Linked DNA regions of Homo sapiens. The protein of the gene in region 3 purifies or fractionates together with the protein of the main gene of each other region. This does not show direct contact. Each region holds a gene or a part of one and is shown on either strand. Other genes may lie near its edges. The genes, in order: AQR, ISY1, CCDC12, YJU2B and GPATCH1.

Region 1 (6,058 bases), on a different chromosome or scaffold from region 3:
AATTCCTCCTTCTGTTCAGCTCCCACAAAAATGACCTAATCATTATAATAGGGAAATGCCTACACCTTCAAGTAGTTTCAATAACAGTCCAGGATTGAACCATAACTTTAAAAGAGGAGAGTTAATCAAACATTCAGAGTAAATATGCTCTCCCCATCTCCCACCTCCCTGGAAAATAAAATAATGGGAGAAATCTTTAAAAACAGAAAGCAACAGAACTCTAATGTGTACTTAGATTCAAGAAGAAGGTATTGTACCAAAACAAGATGTCATACTAAGTAGCGATCAGAATTAGATGTGAATAGGAAAGATAAAACATATTGATAATAGATCTAAATGAGAATTGGACAGATAGAACAGTAGTAATTATCGAAGAAGGAATGAAATTTTCTCATGTTTTAGAAAGACTTGATTTTTCATTCTTTTACAAATGTGTAATACCTAACATTACTGGGAACTGGGCTACGGAAAAGATACATTAAACAAGTAAATATACAGATATAATTACAAATTGTGTAGGTCTGGAAGACAAAAGAACAGTACTTCAGTACTTTGAGATCAGTTTTAGATTGGGAAGTCACAGAAGGCCTAGATAAAGTGGCTTTTAAGCTGATATTTTAAGGATGAGAAAGAACCAACTAGACTAAAAGTGAAGAGAATAGCATGTGCAAAGGGCCTGAGGCAGGGAAGGTTTTGCCATTTCCAACAAACTGAAATGGGTCATTGTGGTTGAAGCTTAGTGAGTAAGGAGAAAGATAAAGTACAAGAGGAAGTCAGGGACTAGATTGAATATAGGTTCTTGGTAAATACATCCTTGCTGGCAATATTGAGGGATTTTTTTCACTTAAACAGTGGTGTGAAGGATTTGAAATAAGGAGTTGTATAAGTGCCTTAGAGGAGTCAAGACAGGAAGAGGAGGAACTAGTAAGGAGTTTGCTATCCGTAGTCATAGTGGTGGCTTGGATTTTTAGAGTGGTAGTGCTGGTAGAAATAAAGAAAAATGAATAGACTCAAGAGTTTTGAAGGTAAAATTGACATGCTCTGGTGATGGATTGAATGCCCAGGGGTGAGACTGAAGTGAATTGTTGTGATGGGTAGGATTCATATAGGAAAAAAAATTATCCCAAAATGCTACCAGAGTAAGAGTACCAAAGGGAAAGACTTCATATATAATTATAAATTGATGCTTTCTGATGTAGAAATAAAGAACTAAATTGAAAAGAACCAAACTGGCATTGCAATTCAAGAAATGATATACAAGATCTTTTCAATGTAAAGTTGTATATTTAGGCGGCTTTCCTGAAGTCAAATACTTGAATTGGAAATGCAGAGGCATAATGATAAGTAAGACCATGAAGTTTCTGTTTGAATAATGTGTATGTTGTTATTTTTATCTGTCTGAATAATTTGTATGTCGTTTTTATCAGAAATTATTTGGGGTTTTTTTGATGATTATGTTTATGATGGTAGTTGTTTGACTTTTAAGCTGTCTTTATGACAAGATTTCCTCTTTCTTAGTATGACAACATTTTGATGGAAGAGGCTGCTCAGATTCTGGAGATAGAAACTTTTATCCCTCTTCTTCTACAGGTAAGAAATATAAGATCTGAGGCAAAGAAAATAGAGTTCTAAGAATGCTGAGGACAGCATCAGAAAGTTGTACAGTTTGGGTGTGCTGATTGCCATAGTTATGTATTTTCCTTAACTTCATTATGTTTGGTATTCTATTTTAAGCCTGTAAACTTTCTTGAATCTATTCACTGGCTATTTAGTAGTTGTTTTGCTTCGAGAAGTACTATTTAAAATTTCATAGTCTATTTCTGTAGTTTTGAAAAGATTTAGTAATTTTAATCAAGAAAATTACATTGTTGTGCAGTTTGGTGGGAAGATGAGCTGTTTCTTCATTTCTTTTGTTATAATTGTTTGTAGAATTATTTTTTTCATTTTCACTGAGTGCATTGCTTTTCTTTATGCCTAAGTTTTTGAGCTAAATTGTGCTATTTAAGAATTTTTTTACTGTAAAATATTCTTTACTATTGAAGCATTAAAAACAAAATGTGGAATTCCCAACTTAAGGATAGAGACCACTCTAATATGCAGATAAATTGAGTTCCAGAAGTTGTTTTTATAAGTGAAGCTACTTGGAACTTGGAATGTATTCTATCAGGATATGTTTCAAGGAACTAGGAGACATATAGAGTAGGAAATTGAAGTAGTAGTGTAGATAATTAAAGAAGGTAGTTTTTACTGCTTTGGTGGGTTCAGAATTGGTCCTCAGCTAATTGTGAAACATGTTTATTTCGCATCTTTCCATTTCTCTTCTTGGGCTTCTGTTTCTTTCTGTGTGCTCGTTACCTAATGCCTGACCTAATCCTTCCAGCCTTCTTTGGATTACCCTGCCTATTAAAGTAGGGTAATTCCATGCTTGCCTTCTAAATACCTCCATTCTCCCTCACCCACTGTCACCCAGGAGCAATAACGTCCATAATTGGTTCACAAATTGTTCTGTAAATTTGCTAGACTCCTGTTTGTGGAGCTGGTAAAGTTTGGTAATTTGTAAGATAAGGAAGCTGTTTGATGAAGACTGAGTCTCTCGGGTAATAAATTGGAGACAAGAGGATAATAGAGTATTTTGCCATTTCCTTACTTTTCATTTCTAGAATCCTCAGGATGGATTTAGCCGACTAAAACGATGGATTATGATTGGCGATCATCACCAGTTACCTCCAGTTATTAAGAACATGGCCTTTCAAAAGTACTCAAACATGGAGCAGTCTCTCTTCACTCGCTTTGTTCGCGTTGGAGTTCCGACTGTTGACCTTGATGCTCAAGGGAGAGCCAGAGCAAGGTAAAAGAGACAGGAAAAAAAATCATTCCCATTTAAGGACATTTGTTCCATGATCCAAGTATTTGTGAATAGCTTTTGTGTAGACTATTAGCATTCTTGGCTATCCAGGAACTTGGCTATCCATAAATCCAAAAGCACTTTTGTCGACTTCTGCAAGAGATGTGAATGGACCAAATAATTTATTTCCTTCATTTCATTCATTAATATTAATTTAAGTAACTTATAATCTAAAGGCTTCTTTTCATTGTCCCTTCTCCTTTCTTCATGTCCCCAAAAGATATACAGTTAATATAATTTTAAAATCTAAAAATAAAGTGAACAAGAGGAGAACACACCAATTCTTACTTCATAAAGGATGCAGGCCCCATCTCATAGTTACCCCCAAATGTCCTCAATTTTTAGTCTTCCTTGATTTTTTAATTTAAGGGATAAAGATAGCATTGACCTCAGAGAGCGTAATAGAACTCTCATTTTTGTAGTACCTTCAGTCTTCTGACCCTTGGTTACTTGAAGTAGGGAAGCTAAGGTTGAAAGAGCATTATTGCTTAAAAGATGAGCCAAAATGGCTAACATGAAAATTTAAAAGAAGCACAGAAACAGAAACCTCCTTATGTATATTAAAAGAGATTTTACACTGCTAATATTTTCTGTTTGTGGGGGAATTTGTCTTTGGAAAGCTTGTGCAACCTCTACAACTGGCGATACAAGAATCTAGGAAACTTACCCCATGTGCAGCTCTTGCCAGAGTTTAGTACAGCAAATGCTGGCTTACTGTATGACTTCCAGCTCATTAATGTTGAAGATTTTCAAGGAGTGGGAGAATCTGAACCTAATCCTTACTTCTATCAGGTAAGAAAAAATAGGAAGCTTATAAGTTTATTTTGCATTTGCTGGCTGACATATGCCTAAATCAGTGATACTTAACCATTTGGCCGTTGAGAAAAGGAAAGTTGGAACCCCACCTTACACATAGCATATGAAAAATCGATTTCAGATTGATTAAAAATACATGCACTAAAGAAACTAAACAAACTAGAAACTACTAGAAGAAAATATTAATGAATATACAGTGTTGGAGTGAGAAAGGTCTTCCTAAGCTTGTTACAAAAGCAGAAATCATAAAGAAAAATAGCGATTGGAGAAAAGATTTATTTTCAGTATTTAAAATTTATTTCAATATTTAACAAACAAGTTGAATTCTGAATATATTTATAGAACTCATAAATTGTTTTAAAAAATCAAGACTAACAGGAAAATATGAATATGCAATTCATATTTTATAACAAGTATAAATCACTGAATTACATTTTCACTTCTATAACAATGCTCAGTGTTGGGATAGGTTTGGGGAAACTTTATTCTCATACAATGCTAGTAGGAAAATAATTTGGTGGACAAATTGTCAGCATGTATGAAAAGCAATGTTCTCACATCTAGGAATTTATCCTAAAAAAATAATTGGGCAAGTTTGGAAAGACTTGTATGCTTCATGTTCATCACTGCAAATTATTCTGGAAATGAGAAACAACCCAAATATCTGTCAGTAGGGATTAATTGCATTATTACATATTCCATATAAAAGAAATACTAGATAGCCACTAAGAATGATAACATTGTATTTACTAACAGGAAGAATGTTTATGCTATATTAAGTGGAAAAAAGTTGCAAAGTATATCTACAGTATCTCATTTTAAAAAGGAGCTGCAATACATACATATAGAAATACATACAGATAATCTATACAAAATGACCTGGCAGCATATACATCAAAATATAGTCTTTGGTTGGTAGCATTTGGGGTTATTTTAATTTTTTTCTTTTTTTCTCTCTCTCTTTACAGCAAAATATCCAATATAGGTTGTTATACAAATTAGAGATCTTGAGTTATTCATGAAAAAGCATCATTTATCATCAGCTTAAATGTGTATGCATAGATGTAACTCATGCAGATCTTATTGTCCCTCCAAATATTTGGTTATATTAAATCAAGTTACTCTATTTGTGTACTTAATGCCTGAGAACAGATGTGACCTTTAAATGATAACTTTAAAAATATTAGAACCTAGTTCAAATCAGTGATGTTTCCTAATAGCCACCTTAGAAATTAATTATTCTATCAGTAATCAACTGATGTTTTCATTACATATTGGTTTTTTGGAATTTCTTCTTTGAGTCAGTTTCATTGCCTGAGTCATACTGTAGTATTGATTGAAACATTTTTATCCAGATTGGTTACCTGTTTTTCTTATTCATTAAGCCTAACTCTAGATGAGTTTTTAGCGATTCAAGAAATAAATATATTTTCAGATGATGATTTGCCACTATTAAATATATTTCTGGAGAGTTGAAAACACTGTCCCCCAAAATAAGAATACTATGCATTTAAGTGATAACATTTGAAGAATTAGTGTCGAGAGGGAAAGACTAGGTGGATAAATGAATAAAAGTCACTAATTTGAAGGGGACTTGACTCATTTGGAGCGAGTTCTAAAATGTTTGGTCACAATACAGTTCATGTTGTTTTATTGTTAATGCTTCATGTCTAACCTTTGGGCAAAGTACCAAATTGGGCAGTGTTAAAGAACTAGAAAACTTAAATGAACTTGTAACTCAAGCTGTGCGTCACAAAGAACCAGAATATAAATGATATTTTTAGAAGTCTTCCAGTAATCTTTCGGTTGCCTTTGCATGAAATCCAGCTTCCTTTTTTTTTTTTTTTAAATATTGTGTTTATATTCTTATTTTACTTTCTTCTTTCATCTAGTACTTTGGATTTAGTCTCTACTGAACTGGACCAAAGAGCTTTGTGTGTGGTTCCTCACCTTTAAGTTGAATAAGCCTTAGTTTTAAGCTCCTTTCTAGTCTGTAATTTAACAGTAAACCAGACTGACCAATTTGCGGTCACATCCTCATCCCACCTAAAGTGATCTAGTAGAAGTGACAACCATTACGCAGAGAACAGAAACAAAGCATACAAAAAACATTAAGAAACATGAGGAAGGAGGAAAAGCACTGTGCAAAAATTGAGTCAATTATAATACTGCTAGGTGTATTTGCTATTAAACTGGGTATTGTATTGGCTTCTTAGTTACTTTGTTCCTTTATAGTTTTGTGTCTGTGTAACTACAGTTGTGGCACATTGTATAGAATTTTTTTTTTTTTTTTTTTTGGAGATGAGATCTCACTTTGTCACCAGGCTGGAGTGCAGA
Region 2 (6,058 bases), about 82 Mb from region 3:
TTTGGTATCTGAGCCTTTTGAGAAGCTGTTTCTTTCTTTACATATGTTATGTTCTTACATATGCAAAAACATTCCTGTTTTTGCCCATTTGTTTTCTCCATTTATGTGTTTTCTCACAGTTTCCAGAACTTAAACACTGGATGAACATTTGTTCACCTGTGGTTGGTGCAGGGGTTGTGAGAGTGACAGCCAGGGAACACACCATGATGTTAGTCTTTTAACACCTGGATGTATTGCTTATCACAGTGGTCTGATAAGTAGAGTTTCCCACAGTCCTTATGTGTAGTGTAAGTAAAATAGATTCTTGGGTGTTCAGGAATACAAATTGCCTCATAATTCCTACTCCTGAGAACATGGAAATCCCTAACTATTCTGTGGTTTCTTAATTACAATATTTGTATATGAATGACATTAAATATGGTCATAAGCAGATCTACCCCATACAGGAACATGGGTAATGAGAAGTCTGTATGAGCAGGATCTAATGGAGTCTTTTATCTTTTATATCGCTGGTAGGACGGCCTTAGCAAGATTTCGCCAGGCTCAGCTGGAAGAGGGAAAAGTGAAGGTTGGTGTAAATCTTCCTCATGAATTGTAAAGTATCAAGAATAAATGCAGGCTGGGTGCAGTGGCTCATGCCTGTAATCCCAATACTTGGGGAGGCTGAGGTGGGTGGATCACTTGAGTCTAGGAGTTTGAGACCAGTCTGGGCAACATGGCAAAATCCCTTCTTTACAAAAAATACAAAGATTAGCCTAGCCAGGCATGGTGGCGCCTGCCTGTAGTCCCAGCTACTGGGGAGGCTGAGGCAGGAGAATCACTTGAATGCAGGAGTCTTACACTGCAGGGAGCCATGATCATGCCACTGCACTCCAGCCTGGGTGACACAGTGAGAACCTGTCAAAAAAAAAAAAAAAAGTAGGGTGCAGTGACTCACGCCTGTAATCCCAGCACTTTGAGAGGCTGAGGGGGGTGGATCACTTGAGGACAGGAGTTTGAGGCCAGCCTGGCTAACATGGTGAAACCCCATCTCTACTAAAAATACAAAAATTAGCTGGGCATGGTGGCAGGCACCTGTAATCCCAGCTACTTGAGGCTGAGGCAGAAGAATCACTTGAGCCCTGGAGACGGAGGTTGCAGTGCACCGAGAGCGCGCTGCTGCACTCCAGGTCAACAGACTTCAAACTTCAGAATTTCCTATTTCTTATCTGTACCTGCTGACGCTCTTGAGAGTCTGTACACTTGAATTCCAATACCTCCCCATAGCTGAGGCAGGGTGATGGATCTGGCTGCTTGTTTTTCAGTTTCTTCTGTATTATGATGACTGGGCCCGGCCCTTTTTTTTTTTTTTTTTTTTTTGAGATGGACGCTCTGTCGCTCAGGCTGGAGTGCAGTGGCGTGATCTTGGCTCACTGTAACCTCCAACTCCCTGGTTCAAGCAATTCCCCTGCCTCAGCCTCCTGAGTAGCTGGAATTACAGGCACATATCACCACACCCAGCTAATTTTTTTGTATTTTTAGTAGAGATGGGGTTTCACCATGTTGGCCAGACTGGTCTCAAACTCCAGGCCTCAGGCAATCTGCCTGCCTTGACCTCCCAAAGTGGGAATTACAGAGATGAACCGCCGTGCCCAGCCTGATGACTGGGTCCTTTATTACTCCAGCTCTAATATTGAATAGGGACTGGAGTATGATGTGGAGAACAGCTGTAAGCTGAAACCGGTAAATTATTTCATTTCTTAGAGACTCACCCAAATTAGAGATAATATATACCATTCTTTGGATTTTTTTTTTAATTTTATATACGCACATGTATATGAATACACCCATATTTATGTATGTTTGTTTTAAACACTGATAGACATTGTTTCTTAAGGTACTATAAATATGCCATGAAATAGCTATAACCTAGTTTGGCTGTCTCTCTATTGCAGGACAGTTAAGTTCTTTCCAATATTAAATACAATGCAATCAATGTTTTTCCTAAGGAGAGATTGTAGAATGAGGTTTAAGGCTTGATGAGGATCATCTGGAATGAAAACTTCAAATGTTTTTAGGCCATTAGATGATTTAGGCTTAAGGCCTGAATCAGTTCTGAATGTTGTTTGAAACTTGTAAATAGTATAATGGAAATGTGTTATTTTTTTCTCCTTAGGAACGAAGACCCTTTCTGGCCTCAGAATGTACTGAACTGCCTAAAGCTGAGAAGTGGAGACGACAGGTATGTTCTGGGTAAATCTGATTTCAGTAGAAGTAACAAGTCTCTCATTTCTTCTTATTATCTAAATGACTGTTAGACCAAAAGTCTAAGTATTTTTAAATACTAATTTTGAATTATAGTTTTTCTGTGCTTTCTAACATATTCAAAAATTATTAAAATGTATTACTTTTTTTTAATAGATCATTGGAGAGATCTCTAAAAAAGTGGCTCAGATTCAGAATGGTAAGCAAACTTGTTCCTTTAAAGTGCTTGATTCTCAAATCCACAATTAGACTTGAGGACTTCAATACTCCTTTCAAAATAATCAATAGAGCAAGTAGATAGTAAATCAGTAAGGACATAGAAGAGCCAATCAATACGATCAGTCAGTTTGATGTAGTTGAAAGTTGTAGAATACTCTGTCTCACAACACTGTACCTAACAATAAAGAATACGTCATTTTTTTTTTTTTTTTTTGAGACAGAGTCTCACTCTGTCACCCAGGCTGGAGTGCAGTGGTGCGATCTCGGCTCACTGCAAGCTCAGCCTCCTGGGTTCACGCCATTCTCCTGCCTCAGCCTCCCGAATAGCTGGGACTACAGGTGCCCACAACCACGCCCGGCTAATTTTTTTGTACTTTCAGTAGAGACAGGGTTTCACCATGTTAGCCAGGATGGTCTTGATCTCCTGACCTTGCAATTCGCCCGCCTCAGCCTCCCAAAGTGCTGGGATTATAGGTATGAGCCACTATGCCCGGCCTAATACATGGTCTTTTTTAAGAGCACGTGGAACATTCACCAAAATAAAACATATTCTGGGCTGCAGAACAAATGTTAGCAAATTTAAAATATTTGAGGCCGGGCGCAGTAGCTCACGCCTGTAATCCCAGCACTTTGGGAGGCCGAGGAGGGAGGATCACCTAAGGTCTGGGGTTTGAGACCAGCCTGACCAACATGGAGAAACCCCACCTCTACTGAAAATACAAAATTGGCTGGACGTGGTAGCGCATGCTTGTAATCCCAGCTACTTGGGAGGCTGAGGCAGGAGAATCGCTTGAACCTAACGGGCGGAGGTTACAGTGAGCCAAGATCACACTATTGCATTCCAGCTTCAGCAACAAGAGTGAAACTCCATCTCAAAAAAAAAAAAAATTGAAATTACACAGAGTATTTTCTCTGATTATAACAACAGATTCATATCTGAAAAATTCCTAAATATTTGGAAATTAAACAACATATTTGTAAATAATTCATGTGTCTGAGAGGAAACAGCAAAGAAATTAGAAGATATTTTGAATTTAATTAGAGTGAAAACGTAATGTCAAAATTTAGGGGATGAAAAAATTTATGGGATATAGTGCTTAGATAAAAATGTATAGCACTGGCCTGGTGCGGTGGCTCACACCTGTAATCCCAGCACTTTGGGAGGCCGAGGCGGGTGGATCACGAGGTTAGGAGATAAGAGACTATCCTGGCCAACATGGTGAAACCCTGTCTCTACTAAAAATACAAATATTAGCTGGGTGTGGTGTCATGTGCCTGTAATCCCAGCTACTCAGGAGGCTGAAGCAGGAGAATCGCTTGAACCCGGGAGGCGGAGGTTGTAGTGAGCCAAGATCGTGCCACTGCACTCCAGGACTCCATCTCAAAACAAACAAACAAACAAACAAACAAAAAATACATATATAGCACTGAAATAATAGAAAATTATGAAAGTTTTCAAATCAGTGATCTAAGCTTCTACCCTGTGAAATTAGAAAAGAAGAGCAAATTAAACCCAAAGCAAGCAGAAGGAAGGAAATAGTAAAGATAAGAAATCAATAGCATTGAAAACAAGATGAATAGAGAAAACAGACCAACAGCTGGTTCTTTGAAAAGATCAATAAAATTGCTGGGCGTGGTGGCTCACGCCTGTAATCCCAGCACTTTGGGAGGCCGAGGCGGGCGGATGACGAGGTCAGGAGATCGAGACCATCCTGGCTAACACGGTGAAACCCCGTCTTTACTAAAAATACAAAAAATTAGCTGGATGTGGTGGCAGGCGCCTGTAATCCCAGCTACTTGGGAGGCTGAGGCAGGAGAATGGCATGAACCCAAGAGGTGGAGCTTGCAGTGAGCTGAGATCGCGCCACTGCACTCCAGCCTGGGAGACAGAGCGAGACTCTGTCTCAAAAAAAAAAAAAAGATCAATAAAATTGATAAACTTCTAGTCAGACTGACCAAGAAAAAATATACACAAATTAAGAATATTAGGAACCAAATTGGGAATATTACTATAGAATCTATATACATTAAAAGGATAATAAGGAAATATTACAGACAATGTTATGCCCATAAATTTGACAACTTAGATGAAATAGGTCAATTCCTTACAAGACACAAACTGCCAAAGCTCACTTAAGAGAAGTGGTCCTTTTTTTTTTTTTTTTTTTTTTTTGAGATGGAGTCTTGCTCTGTCACCCAGGCTAGAGTGCAGTGGCGAGTTCTCGGCTCACTGCACTGGGTTCAAGCAATTTCTCCCTGGGTTCACCTCCCTGGGTTCAAGCAATTTCTCCTGCCTCAGCCTCCCGAGTAGCTGGGATTACAGGCACCCTCCATCATACCTGGCTAATTTTTTTTTTTTTTTTTTTTTTTGAGACAGAGTCTCGCTCTGTCACCCAGGCTGGAGTGCAGTGGCGCCATCTCAGCTCACTGCAGGCTCCGCCCCCCGGGGTTCACGCCATTCTCCTGCCTCAGCCTCCCGCGTAGCTGGGACTACAGGCGCCCACCCCCTCGCCTGGCTGATCTTTTGTATTTTTAGTAGAGATGGGGTTTCACCGTGTTAGCCAGGATGGTCTCGATCTCCTGACCTCGTGATCCGCCCGCCTCGGCCTCCCAAAGTGCTGGGATTACAGGCGTGAGCCATGGCGCCCAGCCAAATTTTTGTAATTTTTTAGTAGAGACAGGGTTTCACCATGTTGAACAGGCTGGTCTTCAATTCCTGACCTCAGGGGATCCACCCTCCTCGGCCTTCCAAAGTGCTAGGATTACAGGTGTAAGCCACAGTGCCTGGCCGAGAAATAGTTCATTTTGTTTTGTTTTGTTTTGTTTTGAGACAGAGTCTTGCTCTGTTGCCCACACTGGAGTGCAGTGGCATGATCTTGGCTCACCGCAGCCTCTGCCTCCCGGGTTCAAGCGAATCTCCTGCCTCAGCCTCCTGAGTAGCTGGGCCTACAGGCGCCCACCACCATGCCCAGCTAATTTTTTTTTGTATTTTTAGTAGAGACGGGGTTTCACCATGTTAGCCAGGATGGTCTCGATCTCCTGACCTCATGACCTGCCCACCTCACCCTCCCGTAGTGCTGGGATTACAGGCTTGAGCCACTGCGCCCAGCCCTGAAGAAATTTTTGATTGTTACAACTGGAAGGGTGCTACTGGCACATAGTGGGTAGAGGCCAGGGATGTGCTAAGCCTCCTACAAATAATTATCCTAAATAAACTACAGTGTCAATAATTCTACTGTTTAGAGACACAGTTCAAAAAGAAATGGTAAACCTGAGTAGTCCTATATCTGTTAAAGAAATTGGGGCTGTGCACCGTGGCTCACGCCTGTAACTGCAGCACTTTGGGAAGTGGAGGTGGGTGGATCACCTGAGGTTAGGAGTTCAAGACCAGGCTGGCCAACATGGTGAAACCCTGTCTCTATGAAAAATACAAAAATTAGCCAGGCATGGTGACGCATGCGTGTAATCCTAGCTACTTGGGAGGCTGAGGCAGGAGAATCACTTTAACCCAGGAGGCAGAGGTTGCAGTGAGCCAAGATTGGGCCACTGCACTCCAGCCTGGGTGACAGAGCGACAGTCCATCTCAAAAAAAAAA
Region 3 (6,058 bases):
AAGAAAGAGGAACCTTGTCTTGTGGCTGTCTAGTGCCTCTTCTGCTACATGGAGGGTGCTTCAGCCACCACAGGTGAGCTAAACCGTGAAGGATCCTGAATAGCCACCCATCTGCCTCGATGGAAACCGTGCCCTCTGAGGGAAATCCAGAGAGAGGCTCACCCTTCGCCCAGGCCAGGTGTTTCTCCCCAGCATATCAGACCAAACTGAACGGGGTCCCATTCTCTTCCCTGTAGCTCACTGCAGAGCCCCTCCTTGCAAAGCTCCAAGGGATGAGGGCAGCACCAATTCTATCCCAGAGGAAGAGCACCCCCAAACTTGGCCAGGAGGCGGTGGGCTCCCTGGCCCATCCCTCTGGCTCCATCTCCAGAGGACAAGGGATTGGCCCTGTGTGATTGTGTTTGGTCCCTTACTTCTCCACATCTGTGGTGTCTCAGGTACAAGTTAAAGGGGCCCTCAACCAGAGGTAAAATAAGAGTATAGGAGAAAGAATAAATGCACACATCACACTTCCCACCTCTCAGCTCCCTTCTGCACACACCATCTCACTTAACCCTTATCCTGGGAGGGAGGAGGTACTGTGGCCATCTTCCAGCTAAAAAGGATGTGAAGAGACTTACCTATCTACACATCCCAAGGTGAGCAGGGTGGCGGAGCCAGGTGGGCAAAGCAACCTGTCCAGAGAGCAGGGAATCATGAGAGAAACGGCCAGCCTGACCCAGAAGCAGTGGTCATATTGTAGGAGCTGCAGTGCAGCCCTCAGGACCTACGTGCAGGGACAGAAAGGACAGGGGAGGGGGGAGTGTACATTTACGGCAACTTGAATCTGTGCTCCCAGGTTGAAAAAAGAAAGAAAGAAAGAAAGCGGGCTGGGCACGGTGGCTCACGCCTATAATCCCAACACTTTGGGAGGCCAAAGCAGGGAGACGACTTGAGACCAGGAGTTTGAGACCAGCCTGGACAACATGGCGAAACCCCATCTCTACTAAAAATACAAAAATTAGCCGGGCGCGGTGACACACACCTATAATCCCAGCTACTCAGGTGGCTGAGGCAGGAGAACGGCTTGAGCACGGGGCGGGGCAGAGGCTGCAGTGAGCTGAGACTGCGCCACTGCACCCCAGCCTGGGCGACAGAGTGAGACTCTGTCTCAAAAAAAAAAAGAAAGAAAGAAAGAAAGAACGAAAGAAAAGGGCTAGAGTTGCTAGAGTGGCAATATGAAGACCTGAGCACTAGCAAGAAGGCTGCCAGCATCCAAACACCAGGTGAGTTCAGACAGCAAGGCTATAAGGGCACTGCCTCAGACTGGCGCTACCCTCCTGAGAGGAGGGATGGATGTCCCGGCTGGGGTCCAGTGAGGACTTCAAGCAGTGGAAAGGAGGCTTAATTTACAGGAAGGCTTTGGCCAGCATGCTGCACCTCAACCCAGCTGGCCTGGATTCCACTGGCACCACACACTTCCCTGAAACAGCTGGACCAAGCTCACCTATCACCTTGTCTTGCCAAAACCCATCCCCAGTCTTCGCCTGGCTTCTCTCAGCCCCACTGTCCTCATGCCGCCCCACCCCACCAAGTTTCCTTGGATTCTTCTAACTCCTGCTAAATACCTGCAGAGCGAGCCTCAGGGCACAGAATGATCTCCCAGTCCTCTGTCTCTGTGGTCTAAGCTCTGTCACCAGAGGGCCTCGTCTAGCCCCAGGGCTTGATATCCTGTATCTGTTTCTAGTCCAGATGCCTGCTTATGTCTCTCTTCGCTTACCTGTCTAACAGTCATCTCTGGCTTAATGTGGCCAAAGCCAGACTCTTGCCTTCCCCTTCAAAGCCCCTCTCCCCTGTACTTTGCCATCTCAGGAACCCTGTCTGTGCGCACTGCCTCACACCTGGGCTCCTGCAGCTGCCTCCTACCTCCACACACAGTCATCCAAGGGCATGTCAGCTTTGCTCAGACCTCCAGTGGTTCCCCAACCCCCTTAGCCTGAGGTCCAGCCTTGGTGGTCTGCAAGGCCCCCTTCTAACTAGCCCAGCCTCCCAGGCCCTCTCCACCCTCATCCCCCTTCCATACCTCCCACTGTTCACTCTACTCCTACTCCTCAAACATGCCAAGCTAGTCTTGCTCAGCTTGGAATGCTCTTCCCTAGATCTTGGCATCTCACTCCTCCATCCCCGTCTCAGAACTCCCAGGTGGTGGTCTTCCCAGCCTGGGCAGCTGCACAGCCTCTCCCCAACACACACACCACATTCCCAAGTTCCTGGGACACATAAACAGGGACACCATGTTCCTTGTTTCTAAGTATTCCCACTCCTTCCATAGAAGCCCCTTGAGGCAAGGAGGAAGTCTTGTTCATAGCTGTATCCCCAGGGCCTGTCATACAGCTGGTACTCAATAAATACTTATTAGTGGCTAGCTGCAGAGTTCCTGCAGTGAGCATGGGCAGCTAAGGTTCCAAGGGAAAAAAAAGTATCCTTCTTCCAATGAGAGAATGCCAGGGACTGATCAGAGATGTCCAGAAAAATTCATCAGAATCACCTGGGGAACTTTAAGAATGCATGAATTTATAGGCTATATACCAAGACCACAATAGGTCTGAGGTAGGGCCAGAAAAAAGGACTGCAAATTGTCTCTCAAGACAACCCAACGAACAGGTAGGTCTGAGAAACTCAGATAAATCCAACACCATCATTTCATACGTGAACATATTGAGGGCCTCAGAAGGAAATGCTGGCTCACCATAGGTATGTGTTGGGAACCCCAAATCTCCCACCCAGAAGATTCTCCCTCTCACTGCCTCCACAACCTTGGAGTCTGAGAGCTTGGGCAGAAAAGCTGAGTCCTTAGGAAGAACGGGCACTCACACTCCACCTCGGCTGTGACTGCAAATCCATTTTCTTCTTAATCTAACACTTTGCACTAACACTCCATCTTCAAAAAATTAGGGCTAGGATGAGTAAAGCCAGGGTGCAGGAGAAGGACCTCTTTGCTTCCACTGGAACCGGGCCAGTTCCACCCACTGTCACCCAGCGGAGAAGGCTGCAGGACCACCTGGATGTCCCCACTTACAAGAGGGTAAAGAAGAAAGGACAGGCATCCACGTTTATAAAAGGCCTGTGTGCAAGATCTCGAGCTAGACACTTCATAGACAGCATCTTTCTCTGTTCTCCTAGCTACTGATGAGTTCAGAAGCTGTATCTCGATTTTATAGACAAGAGAGAGGCTCAGATTTTTCAAGGCTTGCTCTGAGTACCATAGATGCGATTAATGGAGCAGAGGTTTAAATCAGATCTGTCTCCAAAGTCCATTCTCTCCACTCCACCACTAGGCCTCCACCTGGCAGCCTGGTTACAGTTTATATGTGTGATGGGTGGAGGCTCCTTCCCGGGAGGTACTTATTCCCAAGCACCTGGGGGTGAGAGGTGTAGAGGGATAGAAGGCCAGAGCCTAAGGGACAATCTAGGGTCAGCAACAACTCAAAGCACGACTGTGGGATGTTCCTTCAGCCCAGGGTTTCCTGGTCTATCAGACAGGGATGAAGCAATACACCCTGCTTCAAAGTCCTGCTTCAGGGATGGAACACGATTCTGCCACAACTGCCACGCAAATGTTATGACTGCCAACCTGCCAAAAGCTGTCAATACAGGCGGCAGTGATCGCCTTGGCTGACTTTGCAACCAGGCTGCTGGGCCTGGGGATGTGGCCACATGGGATGTAGATAGAGGCAACTTCTTGAGACATGATCAGGACACGGACAAGTCTGACTCCTCACCCAGCATACTAGGCCTCTCACCCACTGCCTCTGTTCCTCCAGCAAGACTTGCTAGCCCCTCCCTCTGGTTCCCTCTTTTACCCTCCCCCAACCTGGCCAGGGACCCTCCCTAGTACTCCCAAGTCAGAGAGTACTAGTGCATGCCTTCTACCTTGGCATTGCTCCCACTCTCTGCACTGTGCATTTTTTTCTTTCTGTTTGTTTTTTAATCCTCCCACCTCAGCCTCCCGAATAGCTGGGACTGCAGGAGCGGGCCACCATGCCCGGCTAATTTTGTTTACTTATATTTGTAGAGATGGTGTCTTGTTATGTTGCCCATGCTGGTCTTGAACTCCTGAGCTCAAGCGATCTGCCCACTTTGGCCTCCCAAAGTACTGGGATTACAGGCGTGAGACACCACACCTGGCCCGCACTCCCATTTCTTGAGTGTGTAAATCACAACTATACCACTCTGAATCACCAGCACTTAACTCCACAGGGTACATACACAGATGGCCCCAAATCAGCATCTGATGGAGATACCAGCCATGAATATGGCCAACTTCCAAGCCCTCTGCCCAGCTTTGGGCTCCCAAGGCTGATGTGATGGTCATCTGGGTTTCCACTTGCCCCTTAGCGCTCAACAACTGGAGCTCAGGTAGAGACACAGTTTCTTGTAAGTCAGGCTGAAGGGAGCAAGTCCTCCAGAGATGCACCGTCGAATAAGGCAATCACGAGTCAAGTGTGGCTGTTTAAATGTAAACTAACTAAAATTAAATGTCGCAGTAGCCATATTTCTTTTTTTTTTTTTTTTTTTGAGACAGGGTCTCACACTGTTGCCCGGGCTGGGGTGCAGTGACGTGATCTCAGCTCATTGCAACCTCTGCCCCTACCAGGCTGAAGCAATTCTCCCTGCTCAGTCTCCCAAGTAGCTGGAACTATAAGTGCACGACACCATTCCAGGTTAATTTTTTGTATTTTTTGTGGAGATGGGGATTTGTCATATTGCCCAGGCTGGTCTCAAACTCCTGGACTCAAGTGATCTTCCTGCCTCCACCTCCCAAAATGCTGGGATTATAACAAGCTTGTCCAACCCGCAGACCAAGGCCCAGGACCACTTCAAATGCAGCCCAACACAAATTCGTAAACTTTCCTAAAACATTATGAGATATTTTTTGTGATTTTTTTTTTAAAGCTCATCAGCTATCATTAGTGTTACTGCATATTATGTGTGGCCCAAGACAATTCTTCTTCCATTGTGGCCCAGGGAAGCCAGAAGATTGGACACCCCTGGATAACAGGCATGAGCCACTGTGCCTGGCCGGTAGCCACATTTCAAGGGCTTGAAAGTCACAGGTGGCCCATGGCTACAGTACTAGACAGTGCAGATTAAAGAACACTATCACTGCACAAAGTTCTAGTGAGCAACACTGCTGCTCTAATCTCTAGAGCCAGGTGACAACCAGGAATTGCTGGTTGCCTGGAACCTGCAACTTGACAGCCAGACCTCAGCCCCAAGGGCTGGTCAGCCAGACAGCCAGTCTCCCTGTCTCAGAGCAGCAAGAGACAGCCCAATTCAGGGCAATCGCTCAGGAAAGCTTGGCATGTTTATGCCAAGTTAATCATCACCTTTAGAGAGCCTCCATTTGGCTGCTGAAGAAGAAAGAGGTCAAAGGAGGACAGAGTGGCCTCACACTGCCCTGCCGGACAGCACTGTAAAGAGATGCCAGAGTTTCATCCACACAGCCTTGAACTGTTCACCTACTCACCCAGCCAGGAACTTCTGGATGAGCATCAGGAAATGAGGTTCAAATACAATACAGAAAAGTGTGCCCAGGCTGGCTACCATCCCTGCTGGAAACCCTGGCTCTTGCAAAACTTGGCTACCAGAGTACCCCAGTCCAGCACTTTCAGACTGTACCCCTGCCCCTGTATCACTGCCAAGTGCTTGCTGTCAAACTCCCTGGAGCATCTCCACTCTCACCTCTATGCACCTGAATGTTCCCACCTCTAAAATGCTCCCTGGGAACACTCTCCTTTCCAGCTACCTCGATGACCTTCTCCCACTTCCCCATCCTCCGTGGCTCAGCTCAAGTTCCATGCTGCCTTCCCATGAAGCTTCCTCAGGCTCTGCCTGGCTTTCCCAGAAAATGAACCCCAGCAGTACTGTCTTTCTGCGTGTCAACGGGAACTGGCTGACCTACAAGATGCTGCTTCAGGCAGTGCTGTGTCCTCTACAGAATCCCCTTCCCCCAGGGGGTCTTGCATGGGCTGGAATCCTGGAATCCAGGAGACATTACTTCCCCTCCTCAGCCTTG
Region 4 (6,058 bases), on a different chromosome or scaffold from region 3:
ACTCAGGGCCAGGGCCCCCAGGCAGGTAAGTGGGTGGCGCTCACCTGTGGTCAGCACCTGCTCATTGTCCGCCATGTCCCAGCGCTCCTCCTTGCGCTGGGCGCCACTCACGATCACGTAGTCGCAGTTGGCGGGGTCCGTCTGCATCTCGATGTAGTTGACACAGAGGTGGCATTTCATCCGGAACCTGGGAGGGAGCGGTGGGCAGGAGTCAGGAGGCTGTGGCTGTGCACCAGGACAGCCCTGTCGCCTCTGCCTGCTTCCTTCCACCCAATGGTGTCATTTGACAAAAATTCACTGAGCACCCACTGTGTGCCGTGTAGAGCCACGGGCAAAAAGGGGCACATCCGGGCACCCAGAACGGACCTTCTGTCAGTGGGGCTGCAGTTGGCTTATTCATTTGTTCATTCAGCTGTTTGTTCATTCATTCATTCCCTCATCCATTTTTTTGGTTCATTTATTCGTTAATTCATTTGTTCATTCATTAGTGCATTTGTTTGTTGGTTCACTGATTCATTTGTTAAAGTAATTCATACATTCATTTGCTCATCCATCCATTTGTTAATTCACTTATCATTTGTTCATTCTGTTCATTCATTTGTTCATTCATTTGTCCACTAGTTCATTTATTCAACAAACCCGCCCAAGACAGGCTGCTCTGTGGCAGGCTCAGTGCCAGCTGCTGGGGAAATTGCTGAGTAGTGGAAAAGCCAACTTGCTCATGGAAAGGCTGACGTCCCAGCAGGGCCCACCTTGATAGCAAGGGCACAAGCAACCAGTGTCAAGTCTCACTTTAGAAAAGGTGTCTCTGAGGGGTGCTGTTTGAGCAGAAACCCCGGGTGAGGGAGGAGCCTTGGAGCTACCTGGGGAAGAGCATTCCAGGTGGAAGCACAGAGGTGGGTGTGTCCCTGGGGTGTGTGAGGGACAACGAGGAGGCCAGGGAGGGGGACAGCAGGAGGAGGTTAGGGTGAAGAAAGGACAGGCAGAGTGTGTGGTGCCTTGTGAGCCAGGGGGAGGACTTGGGCTTTTACTGAGGAAGGTGGGAGCCATGGAGGGTTGCGGGGGTGGGGTGTGCCCTGATTCACCAACCAGGGCGATTTCCAGGAGTCCTGCAGGGAATGGGTTCCCCCCGCAACTCAGGCTCTTTGTAGCCCCCTCGCCCTGTGGCCACCCCACCTGTTCCCAAGATGCCACCAAGCCGCCCTTACCTGTAGATCGGGGTTGTGTAGTAATTGCCCACCTTCTTCTTTTCTGCATTGTAACGAACACCTGGAAGGGGGTCAGGCGGGGGTGGTAATTTCATTGCCATCTGAATTTTGCAGATGGGTAAAATGAGGTACAAAGAGGCTCACTGTCACTTGCTGAGGGTTCCCCAACTAGGAGGAGTTAGAGACGGGATTGGAAGCCAGAGCCTGGCTTCCTAATCCCTCTGCAAAGGGGCTTCCATGGCCAGCCAGTCACTCGGGTGCCCGTCTCCTCCCTCATTCCTGATCAGGACCCTCCCACCCCCACCCCGGCGGCATCCAGCAGTTAGGGGGTCTGATGTTTGCAGGACTGAATGGAGGGTGGGCAGAGGCTCACCCATGCCGATGTGGTTCTTGCAGCCATCGCACCAGATGTTATATGGCATTTCGAATCTGCAAAGACAGACAGCATCTTACTTGCACTTGTCCACTTGGACACTCCCTGGGTCTCCACACCTGCGACTCTGGCCGCGGTTGTGATTTGAGGGGTGGGGTATTAGACTGCCCTGTTAACGGGAGTTGCTGCACTCACATTACACAGGAAATGGATATATGGAAGAAAAAGAATCACAACCATTGTAACTGAGCAGGAACTTCCTGCCTGCTAGAAAGCAGACTGACCAGGTCCAGGGACAGCCGCCTTTGGGTGCTGCTGCGACTTTTTTTTTTTGAGACAGAGTCTTGCTCTGTTCCCCATGCTAGAGTGCAGTGGTGCGATCCTGGCTCACTGCAACCTCTGCCTCCTGGGTTCAAGCAATTCTTATGCCTCAGCCTCCCAAGTAGCTGGGATTATAGGTGTGCGCCACCAATTCCGGCGAATTTTTTTTTTTTTTTTGAGATGGAGTCTCGCTCTGTTGCCAGGCTGCAGTACAGTGGCATGGTCTTGGCTCACTGCAACCTCCAGCTCCCTAGTTCAAGTGATTCTCCTGCCTCAGCCTCCCGAGGAGCTGGGATTACAGGTGTGAGCCACCGCACCCAGCCTAATTTTTTCTATTTTCAGTAGAGACAGGGTTTCACTGTGTTGGCCAGGCTGCTCTCGAACTCTTGGTCTCAAGTGATCCACCTGCCTCACCCTCCCAAAGTGCTGGGTTTACAGGCGTGACCCACTGTGCCCAACTACGATCACTGTCTTTTTTGAGAGTCCTATGTGATCAAGTCCAGGCTGGCCTGCTACAGGTTGAGATACAACACGGAGCAGAGCCCAGCTGTACAGGTCAAGTCCCTGCTAAACCAGCCAGTCCCCAGCCAGCCAACTCTGAAACACATGGGAGCCCAGCCCAGATCAGGCCAGCCTAGCCCAGCCCAGCCAAGCTCTTCCAAGCCCAGCAGAGATATTTTGCTGAGCTGCAGACATGTGAGCAATAATAAATGCTTATTGTTTTGTCACACGGCAATAACTGACTGATACGGTGACTTTCTGCTTTATGGAATGAAGACCCTGCAGCACTGGGCCAATGAGGGCACTGAACTCTCCTTGAGACTGAAGGAATGGGGCAGGACGGTGGGGTCCTCAGGTGATGCTGGGCCTTACCGGATGATGAGGATGCCCTGTGACAGCTTCCGAGCCCGCTCCCGAAGCGGGTGGCTGTTGTGGTATCGGTTGAGAGAGCCATGCTGTGTGGAGAGGATGAGGAGCGGATTAGTGCTGCTGAGCTGGAGGAGCTCACAATTTTCTGCCACCCCCACTGCTTTGGGACAAGTGTCTCACAGGTGGGAGAGGCCTTGATTCTTATGTCCTGCAGGACGGGTGTTCATAGCAATAGGGGGCATCCAGGTCTTACTGGAACATGTAGGCTTGGAACCAGGAACGTGAGTTTGAATAGTCCCTCTCTTATTTATTTATTTATTTTTTGAGATGGAGTTTTGCTCTTGTTGCCCAGGCTGGAGTGCAATGGCATGACCTTGGCTCACTGCAACCTCTGCCTCCCGGGTTCAAGTGATTCTCCTGCCTCAGGCTCCTAAGTAGCTGGGATTACAGGCGCCTGCCACCACGCCCGGCTATTTTTTTTGTATTTGTAGTAAAGACGGGGTTTCACCATGTCACCCAGGCTGGTCTCCAACTCCTGACCTCAGGTGATCCACTTGCCTCGGCCTCCCAAAGTGCTGGGATTCCGGGTGTGAGCTACTGCGCCCAGCCCTGTTCCCATTTATGAGCTGAAAGAGCCAGGGGACCCTGGGCGAGTGACCTCACGTTTTGCCTTCCCGAGCCTCTGTTTCCCTTGTCTGTCAACTACGTATAATGGTCATTATTACTTCCAGGTTTTATGGGGAAGATGAGGTGAGGTGACAAGACTGGCAAACATTCGCTGGGGACTTCATGTGCATCACCTTATTTTTTTTTTTTTTTTTTTGAGACAGAGTCTCGCTCTGTCACTAGGCTGGAGTGCAGTGGCGTGATCTCGGCTCACTGCAACCTCCGCCTTCCGGGTTCAAGCGATTCTCCTGTCTCAGTCTCCCAAGTAGCTGGGACTACAGGTGTGGGCCACTACGCCCAGCTAATTTTTGTATTTTTAGTAGAGATCAAGTTTCACCATGTTGGCCAGGATGGTCTTAAACTCTCGACCTGGTGATCCACCTGCCTTGGCCTCCCAAAGTGCTGGGATTAGAGGCGTGAGCCATGGCGCCGGCTTTTTTTTTTTTTTTTTTTGAGGCAGGGTCTGGCTCTGTAGCCCAGGCTGGGGTGCAGTGGTATGATTATGACTCACTGCAGTCTCCACCTCCTGGGCTCAAGCAATCCTCCCACCTCAGCCTCCTGAGTAGCTAGGATTTATCCCTCAATGATTCTGTGAGGTCAGCTCATTTTATTTCCCCCTTCTGACGTATGGAGAAACTTTGGCATAGAGAGGCTAAATCCTATACTCAGGACGAGGCAGCTGGGACACTTGGGCCCTTACTGAGCACCTACTGTGTGGGGACACAGCCACAATAAGATAGATGAACATCTCTGCCTTCAGGGAGAGAATGTTCTAGCGGGGGAGATGGACAAGACGCAAATAAATGAATAAGTGAGGGAGTTATAAGGGCTATGAGATTATATAAAGTGCTCAGCAATGCAACAGAGAACGAGACAGTGGTCAGGGAGGACCTCTGTGAGAAAAGCACTTAAGGAAGTGAGAGTATGGTGAAATGGAGGAAGAGATTCCAGGCAGAGGGGACAACCAGGACGCCACAGGTGCTGGAGCTGGGGAAGCCATGGGATCTGACCCTTCATCTGTGCGCTCTGCCTTATCCTGGGCCCCTGCTGTAAACACACTATACTCTAGTATAGTGTGGACATGGAGTTACAGGTCCCTGAGGAGAGCCACAGTTATCACCCAAAAGTGAAGACAGCCTCGAGACTCAGGTGACATGCAGAAGACAAAAAGACCTTGGGGGCCACCCATCCTTCCGCAGCAGTGGCTCTAACCCCAAGAGGGGATGACGTGGGTCTTTTTGCTACTGTGGACCTGGAGCGGAGAGCCTGCTTACCTTCTCAGGGTTGAAGTCTGGAGGATAGTACTTGTTGACCCCTTTCCTTTCACCCTGCAAAGCAGAACAGAGACATGACTCAGAGAGAGGCTGATATGGTTTGGCTGTGTCCCTACCCAAATCTCATTCAAAAAAATTTTTTCTGATTTTTTATTTTACTATTAATTTTTAGAGATGGAGTCTTGCTCTGTCACCCATGCTGGAGTGCAGTGGTGCGATCTTGACTCACTGTAACCTCCGTTTCCCGAGTTCAGGCGATTCTCCTGCCTCAGCCTCCTGAGTAGCTAGGATTACAGGCATGCACCACCACGCCCAGCTAATTTTTTGTATTTTTAGTAGAGATGGGGTTTCACCATGTTGGCCAGGCTGGTCTTGAACTCCTGACATCAAGTGATGCACCCACCTCAGCCTCCCAAAGTGCTGGGATTACAGGCGAAATCTCATCTTGAATTGTAGTTCCCATAATCCCCACGTGTCATGGGAGGGACCTGGTGGGAGGTAACTGAATCGAATCATGGGGGCGAATCATGCTGTTCTCATGACAGCGAATGAGTTCTCGAGAGACCTCATGGTTTTACAAGGAGCTTTTCCTCTTGCTCATTCTTGCTGCTGCCACGTGAAGAAGGATGTGTTTGCTTCCCCTTCTGCCATGATTGTTAAGTTTCCTGAGGCCTCCCCAGCCATGCTGAACTGTGAGTCAATTAAACCTCTTTCCTTTATAAATTACCCAGGCTTGAGTATGTCTTTTTTTTTTTTTTTTTTTTTTTTGAGACAGAGTTTCACTCTTGTTGCCCAGGCTGGAGTGCAATGGTGCGATCTCATCTCACTGCAACCTCCGCCTCCCGGATTCAAGCAATTCTCCTGCCTCAGCCTCCCGAGTAGCTGGGATTACAGGCATGTGCCACTACGCCCAGCTAATTTTTTTGTATTTTTAGTACAGACAAAGTTTCACCATATTGGCCAGGCTGGTCTTGAACTCCTGACCTTGTGACCCACCTACCTCGACCTCCCAAAGTGCTGGGATTACAGGCGTGAGCCACCGCGCCCAGCCCTTGGGTATGTCTTTATGAGCAGCGTGAGACTGGACTAATACACAGGCTCCCTCCAGGAAACCTACTTGTGCAGCCTCAGGGGGCAGGACCTGGATAAGGGGGACTTGGGGACATTTTAGAGGACAGTGCTGGGCTCAGTGTCTGATTGGGGAAGGGCTACTTGGGCAAAAAACCCATTGTCATTGCTTTGGAAAATTCCATGAGGTTCAGATGCTCCTATGGTGGCTTTCACACTCTTTTGGAGACTGTGATTGACGGTAAGAAGTATTTAACATTGCCACTGGGCAGATACAC
Region 5 (6,058 bases), on a different chromosome or scaffold from region 3:
ATGAATAATTAAAATAGATCAATACATTACTATGTAATAATGTATTGGTATGTTACATAATATACCAATAGTATTGATATATTAATTATATAAAATATAAATCATATACAATATATAATGGTATATTGATTATAATATAGTATTAAAATTAAATAGTATATTATGATATATTAATATATCTTCATTTAAGTTATATAAAAATAATCCATAGTTTGGGGACAGAAATCAGAAACTATAGGGAGGCAAAAGGAAGAAGGCTCAGAAGCTAAATGACTCAGGGGAAAAAAAAAGAAAAACATTGGAAGGAAAAAAAAAAGGAAGTAAGTACTAGCAGCCCACTGACCACCCGGAGGTTAAGTCTCCTAACACTGGGTACACATGCCCTTCCAGTGTCCTGTGTAAAACCCTGGGTTCCCTGTCATACCATCCCAGTCAAGTGACACATGACTGTATGATAACCAAAGAATAGTAGGTGCCACTTCTTCAGTCTTTGGGACAGGTGCTTTGCCAGACACTGAGTTATGCCACTTAATCCTCACAACCACCTCTGGAGTGGATTTTATCCTCACTTTACAAATGTGGACTCCAATGCCCAGAGAGGTTATGAGCCTTGCCTAAGGTCACAAAGCTGGGCAATGGAGAGCTGGCATCCAAACCCAGGTCTGACTGACTCCAAATCACATGCTGCTAATACCGACTCTACACTGTCTGGCCCTGCACCTTTTCTGGAAACAACTGAAATGTGACTTCAAACCACAGGATCTGATTCACCTTGAAATTTCAACACAGCATGAAGTTAAAGTTGTGTTGAGAGATGTCAGCCTCTTATCCCAACAAGAGCCTCCTCAGAGCCAGGGACTCAAGGGAGAAGACGGACTGGGCGCCCAGCTCCATCTTGCTGCAGGCTGTTGGTGTACCTGCCTCCTGGTCCCCTGGCTTGACCTTCTGACCTGCTGCATGTGTTGGCCTCCTTTGGCCACCTGCCCAGTTCCTCGAGCTCTGGGTGCTTCCCTTTGACCCACTGCCAGCTCTGACCAGCCATGTGGTCACTGGTCCAGGCATTCCTCTTTCCCTGATTACAGACCTCTCCCTCCCTCCCACCTGGGCCCCACCTTGACAGCTGGCTTTGGCCTTGGCCAGGTCTGAATCCTGCATTTGTTTCACTTCCCATGCTGGGCCTCGCTTCTTTGTTTTGTTTCTTACCGTGACTTTGACCAACAACAGAGGCTGGTGCTCCTGTATCGCTCTTGCAGCCCCTCCTTCCTGATACCCTGACACTTGGTCCTGCCATTAGGTTTGTGGCTGTCGAATTACCTTTCTGGTTTTTATACTGCCTGGGTGCTGTCCAGCCATAGAGTCCGTCTCCAGGCTCCTCGTCCTTCAGAACAGTGTCATACTTGGATAGAGTTTCTGTGGCATAGATATCATCATCTTCCTCTTCCAGGGCACCTACACCAAAAGCCTTTAAAAAAACAAGGTTTCAAACTGAGCACAGGTGTTAGGGTATGTCTGGGATCTTCAGGGATAAAGCTACTTTAAGGATGTGATTGGAAACCATGTTAGCACTTCAAGATCACCAAGAGAGAAGTGAACGGGGGTCCCAGATCGACCAACACACACACAAGTTTTCTGGAAAACAGTGACCAGAGGTGAATGCCATGTCCCTACTGCCAACACTGCCCTCCAGTCCCCACAACAGCCATGGCTCCAGGTCCCAGCACAGGAAGAGGAGTGGAGAACAAAGCCAAGCAGCAGTGCAGGGGTGGAAATGTGGCTTCCAAGAGGAGAAAGGAAGAAATGTTCATCAACTGATCAATGCGGCCTGGGCCAACGCTGGTGGCTGGGGTCTAAGGGCCGCTGCTACTCTACTGCCCGCTGGAAGAACTCCTACTCTCTGCGGAAAGGAGCCTCTAACAAGTAGCATTTTTGTTTAAAAGACTGAAAAAAAAACACGTTTATAAAAAGAAAAGGTGGGCCGGGCGCAGTGGCTCACGCCTGTAATCCCAGCACTTTGGGAGGCCGAGGCGGGTGGATCACCTGAGGTCAGGAGTTCAAGACCAGCCTGACCAACATGGAGAAACCCCATCTCTACTAAAAATACAAAATTAGCCGGGGTGGTGGCGCATGCCTGTAATCTCAGCTAGTCAGGTGGCTGAGGCAGGAGAATCGCTTCAACCCGGGAGGTGGAGGTTGCGGTGAGCCGAGATCGCGCCATTGCACTCCAGCCTGGGCAACAAGAGTCAAACTCTGTCTCAAAAAAAAAAGAAAGAAAGAAAGAAAGAAAAGGTGGCCAGGCGCAGTGGCTCATGCCTGTAATCCTAGCACTTTGGGAGGCCGAGGCAGGTGGATCATCTGAAGTCAGGAGTTCGAGACCAGCCTGGCCAACATGGTGAAACCCCGTCTCTACTAAAAATACAAAAATTAGTGGGGCATGGTGGCACATGCCTATAATCCCAGCTATTCAGGAGGCTGAGGCAGGAGAATCACTTGAACCCAGGAGACAGAGGTTGCAGTAAGCCAAGATCGCACCACTGCACTCCAGCCTGGGTAACAGAGCGAAACCCCGTCTCAAAAAAAAACAGAAATGGTAATAATGAAATGGCAAAGTCACCATTTTAAAAATGCATTTTAAGAAAGAATCTTTGACCTGATTCCACTTGAGGATTAGGGGGAAAAAAAAAGAAAATAAAGAACCTCTAAAAAGAAGAAAGAAAGAAAGTAGACTCATTTATCAATGACTCCCCCTTTATAAAATAGAAAATAATTTTACCTGGCCTGAAATTCCCAATTTTCTTCCTTTATTCAGTCCAATTTCTCCAAGATCGCCAGCTCTCTCAGAACCACCACTGAAAAGATTAAAATGTTCTCCCGAAGTTCCAAACAGTGCCTGGTGGGGATCCAGGCCCTTGTAAGCTAGACCATGCACATTATCTTTAGGTGTGAAATCCACAGGTGTGACATCTTTGGGTGCAAAGGTCACATTATCAGGCAAGTAGTCATCATCTTCACCCTATTTCCGTTTAAAGTGGAATTAAGGTGAGTCACTGAAGGATGCAAAGTAAACCCACAAAATACTAATTGAAAACGCAGTGATTAATGCCACACAGAACAATTAGCAAACTTTCATTGGTGCTGTTATAAATGACTAAATCACTTTCTGGCACAAAGGATGCTAACACCAACTCCATTTTATGAAGCTGAACAGACCTGGGTATCTGTGGTGCTGGCATGTTGCTGAATATGTATGCTGATATAATGAGGATAGCTTTAGGGTATGAGTATTTAACTGTATAGTTATTGGATCTGATTTCTAAAATTGTCTCCAACCAAATTTCACAGTCATACAGAAACAGGTGCTGTTGTACCAAAGTGAAGGTCAGTCACACCATGCAATACCTCAGATCCTTCCGAGCTTCCAGGGGGTAATGCACAGCCATAGATTTTGACTCCAGGATCTAGAAAAGAGATTTCAAATGCAATAGTCATGAGTGACTACAAATAGAAAACCCCGACCAGGCCGGGCGCGGTGGATCACACCTGTAATCCCAGCACTCTGGGAGGCTGAGGTGAGAGGATCGCTTGAGCCCAGGAGTTCAAGACCAGCCTGGGTAACATAGTGAGATTCCGCCTCCACAAAAAATTTAAAAAAAAAAAGGCTGGGCGCAGCGGCTCATGCCTGTAATCCCAGTACTTTGGGAGGCTGAGGCGGGGTGGATCACAAGGTCGGGAGTTGGAGACCAGCCTGACCAACATGGAGAAACCCCGTCTCTACAAAAAATACAAAAAAAATAGCCAGGCATGGTGGCGCAAGCCTGTAATCCCAGCTACTCAGGAGGCTGAGGCAGGAGAATCGCTTGAACCGGGAAGCAGAGGTTGCAGTGAGCCGAGATCGCGCATTGTACTTCAGCCTGGGCAACAAGAGCGAAACTCCATCTCAAAAAAAAAAAAAAAAAAAAAAACCTCACTGATAACTCTTCAGAGGTACATGGGTACATTTATAAAATGTGCTACAGCATTACGGTGAGAGGAAGATAACTGGGAATTGTTTTAGAAACAGGGTCTCGCCCTGTCACCCAGGCTGAAGTACAGTGGCATGATCATAGCTCACTGTAGCCTCAACCTTCTGGACTAAAGCCATCCTCCCACCTCACTCTCCTGAGTCGTAGCTGGGACTACAGGTGCGCTCCACCACACCTGGCTAATTTTGGTATATTTGGTAGAGGCAGGGTTTCACCGTGTTGCCCAGGCTGGTCTCAAACACCTGGGCTCAAAGATAATCTCACCTCAGCATCCCAAAGTGCCAGGATTATGGGTATGAGTCACTGCACCCAGCCAGGAATCATTTTCTACCAGCACCTGCCCTACCTAGCAGTAATGTGCTCAATGAGTAACCAATACTGCCCCACAGCATAAGGAACCCAAAAGAAATGACTGTTACCCTCAAAGAGTCACTTACAGTCTGGCTGGGGAGACTCAGGGCAAGAAATAAGGAACAAGTAATAATGTTAAACTGTGACAGCTTGGGGGAGGGTAGGAAACATGAACTCTCACATGCTGCTGGCAGAAGCATAAACTAGCACAGCCTTTCTGGAAGCTGTCATGCATTACACATAAAAAGCCTTAGAAGACACACATACCACTGGGCCCAGCTATTTCGTTTATTGGAATTTGCTCAGGCAATCCTCAGCCTGGGCCTGGGCAACATGGCAAAACCCCGTCTCTACAAAAAATACAAAAAATTAGCCTGGCGCAGTGGCACATGCCTGTGGTCCCAGCTACTTGCGGGGCTAACGTGGAAGGATCACTTGAGCCCGGGAGGTCAAGGCTGCAGTATGCCGGGATCGCACCACTGCACTCCAGCCTGGGCGACAGAGCAAGACCCTGTCTCAAAAAAAAAAAAAAAGTACGCTGCAGCAGTGATAACAGTTAATCAATTAACATACACACCAGGTTTCTGTCGGCGTGGCCGTCTCTTTACTCGAGGACCAACTCCTTGTCCTTCTTTCCAACCCATTTTTCTTAGCAATTCGAAACCAACAGATAATCTAGGATAGCAAGGCATTGAAAATGAACTTTTCAAAATAACATTAACAAAGAATATGAAATAAGCGGCTTCTGAGTTCCTGCTCAGTTCCTAGGCCTGTCTTGCCTGGGCCCTTGCCCTCACCCACATTACATCTGGCGTGACCCTGCCATTCCAGCCACAGCAGGCTGCACTGGGGTGCACACCTGAACTGGGGAAGTCAATCAGATGACCTTTCTCCTGGGCCTTTACGATGGGATCACAGGGACTCTAGACAGTCTTTGCTAAGCATGTGGCCTGGGAATCCCTGAAGGTCTAAGGCTGCCATATCAGGCCACAAGCCCAGGAGCACAAGGAGATACACAGAAAGTGAGGGTAGAAGGAGGCAGACAGAGGCGAGGCTATAAGGTCTGGAGGGGTGGTGGGAGAAGTCACTGTAATTCCTAACAGCTCTCCAGCCTCTGAGAGCCCCAGCAGCACAGCTAGTGGCTGGAGTTCTTAATCTCTCCGTGCAATGACAGTGCAAGATCCTTTACGCAAAACCCCCTTTTTCACTTAGACTTTGAGCCTAAGAAGGCTTGTCTCACTTGCAATCAAACTATCCCTCAGCAAGAGAATCACACATATGCAAAACACCGGTGCTAAGATCATGACAGTCAGAAGGAAATGCTCACTTTGCTGGCGTTATGAGGTCATCAAGGAGGGTGGCTCCAGGAATAGGGGCAGTAGCAGCGGCCAACTGCCTAGCCTTTTCTCGTATTCTGTCTTTGGTTTTGGAGGCAAAATCGTCTGTGGTGACAATCGCTTTAGGTGCTATCCCAAATTCACTAAGATCCTTCAAAAAAATTCAAACAGAATTACATTATTTGGAAAGTGACTATACACAATACATCACATAGTTTTATTTCTGTTAAAAAAAAAAAGTTAAAACTACAAAATTTAGTTCTGGATCAGCAGAGTGACAGACATACACACTGACTTTATTTTTTATTTATTTATTTTTTTGAGACAGAGTTTCTCTCTTGTTGCCCAGGC

The links.
Region 1: the proteins of CCDC12 (region 3) and AQR purify together in Homo sapiens (affinity purification with mass spectrometry; one large-scale study listed by BioGRID and IntAct). This does not show direct contact.
Region 2: the proteins of CCDC12 (region 3) and ISY1 purify together in Homo sapiens (affinity purification with mass spectrometry; one large-scale study listed by BioGRID). This does not show direct contact.
Region 4: the proteins of CCDC12 (region 3) and YJU2B purify together in Homo sapiens (co-immunoprecipitation; one large-scale study listed by IntAct). This does not show direct contact.
Region 5: the proteins of CCDC12 (region 3) and GPATCH1 purify together in Homo sapiens (affinity purification with mass spectrometry; one large-scale study listed by BioGRID and IntAct). This does not show direct contact.

What each region holds. Positions count from the first base shown.
Region 1 is NC_000015.10:34,871,467-34,877,524, reverse strand, and holds part of AQR (RNA helicase aquarius), read left to right. Parts: intron 1-1,518; coding exon 1,519-1,590; intron 1,591-2,660; coding exon 2,661-2,848; intron 2,849-3,525; coding exon 3,526-3,697; intron 3,698-6,058.
Region 2 is NC_000003.12:129,153,018-129,159,075, reverse strand, and holds part of ISY1 (pre-mRNA-splicing factor ISY1 homolog), read left to right. Parts: intron 1-516; coding exon 517-568; intron 569-2,155; coding exon 2,156-2,221; intron 2,222-2,400; coding exon 2,401-2,443; intron 2,444-6,058. Other genes in the region: ISY1-RAB43 protein, read left to right, coding at 517-568, 2,156-2,221, 2,401-2,443. UniProt on the Homo sapiens protein: Component of the spliceosome C complex required for the selective processing of microRNAs during embryonic stem cell differentiation. Required for the biogenesis of all miRNAs from the pri-miR-17-92 primary transcript except miR-92a.
Region 3 is NC_000003.12:46,965,364-46,971,421, forward strand, and holds part of CCDC12 (coiled-coil domain-containing protein 12), read right to left. Parts: intron 1-6,058.
Region 4 is NC_000019.10:13,752,997-13,759,054, reverse strand, and holds part of YJU2B (probable splicing factor YJU2B), read right to left. Parts: intron 4,767-6,058; coding exon 4,713-4,766; intron 2,859-4,712; coding exon 2,776-2,858; intron 1,638-2,775; coding exon 1,582-1,637; intron 1,270-1,581; coding exon 1,209-1,269; intron 188-1,208; coding exon 45-187; exon of another isoform or gene 1-44. UniProt on the Homo sapiens protein: May be involved in mRNA splicing.
Region 5 is NC_000019.10:33,093,159-33,099,216, reverse strand, and holds part of GPATCH1 (G patch domain-containing protein 1), read right to left. Parts: intron 5,859-6,058; coding exon 5,698-5,858; intron 5,046-5,697; coding exon 4,948-5,045; intron 3,456-4,947; coding exon 3,397-3,455; intron 3,011-3,396; coding exon 2,771-3,010; intron 1,463-2,770; coding exon 1,315-1,462; intron 1-1,314.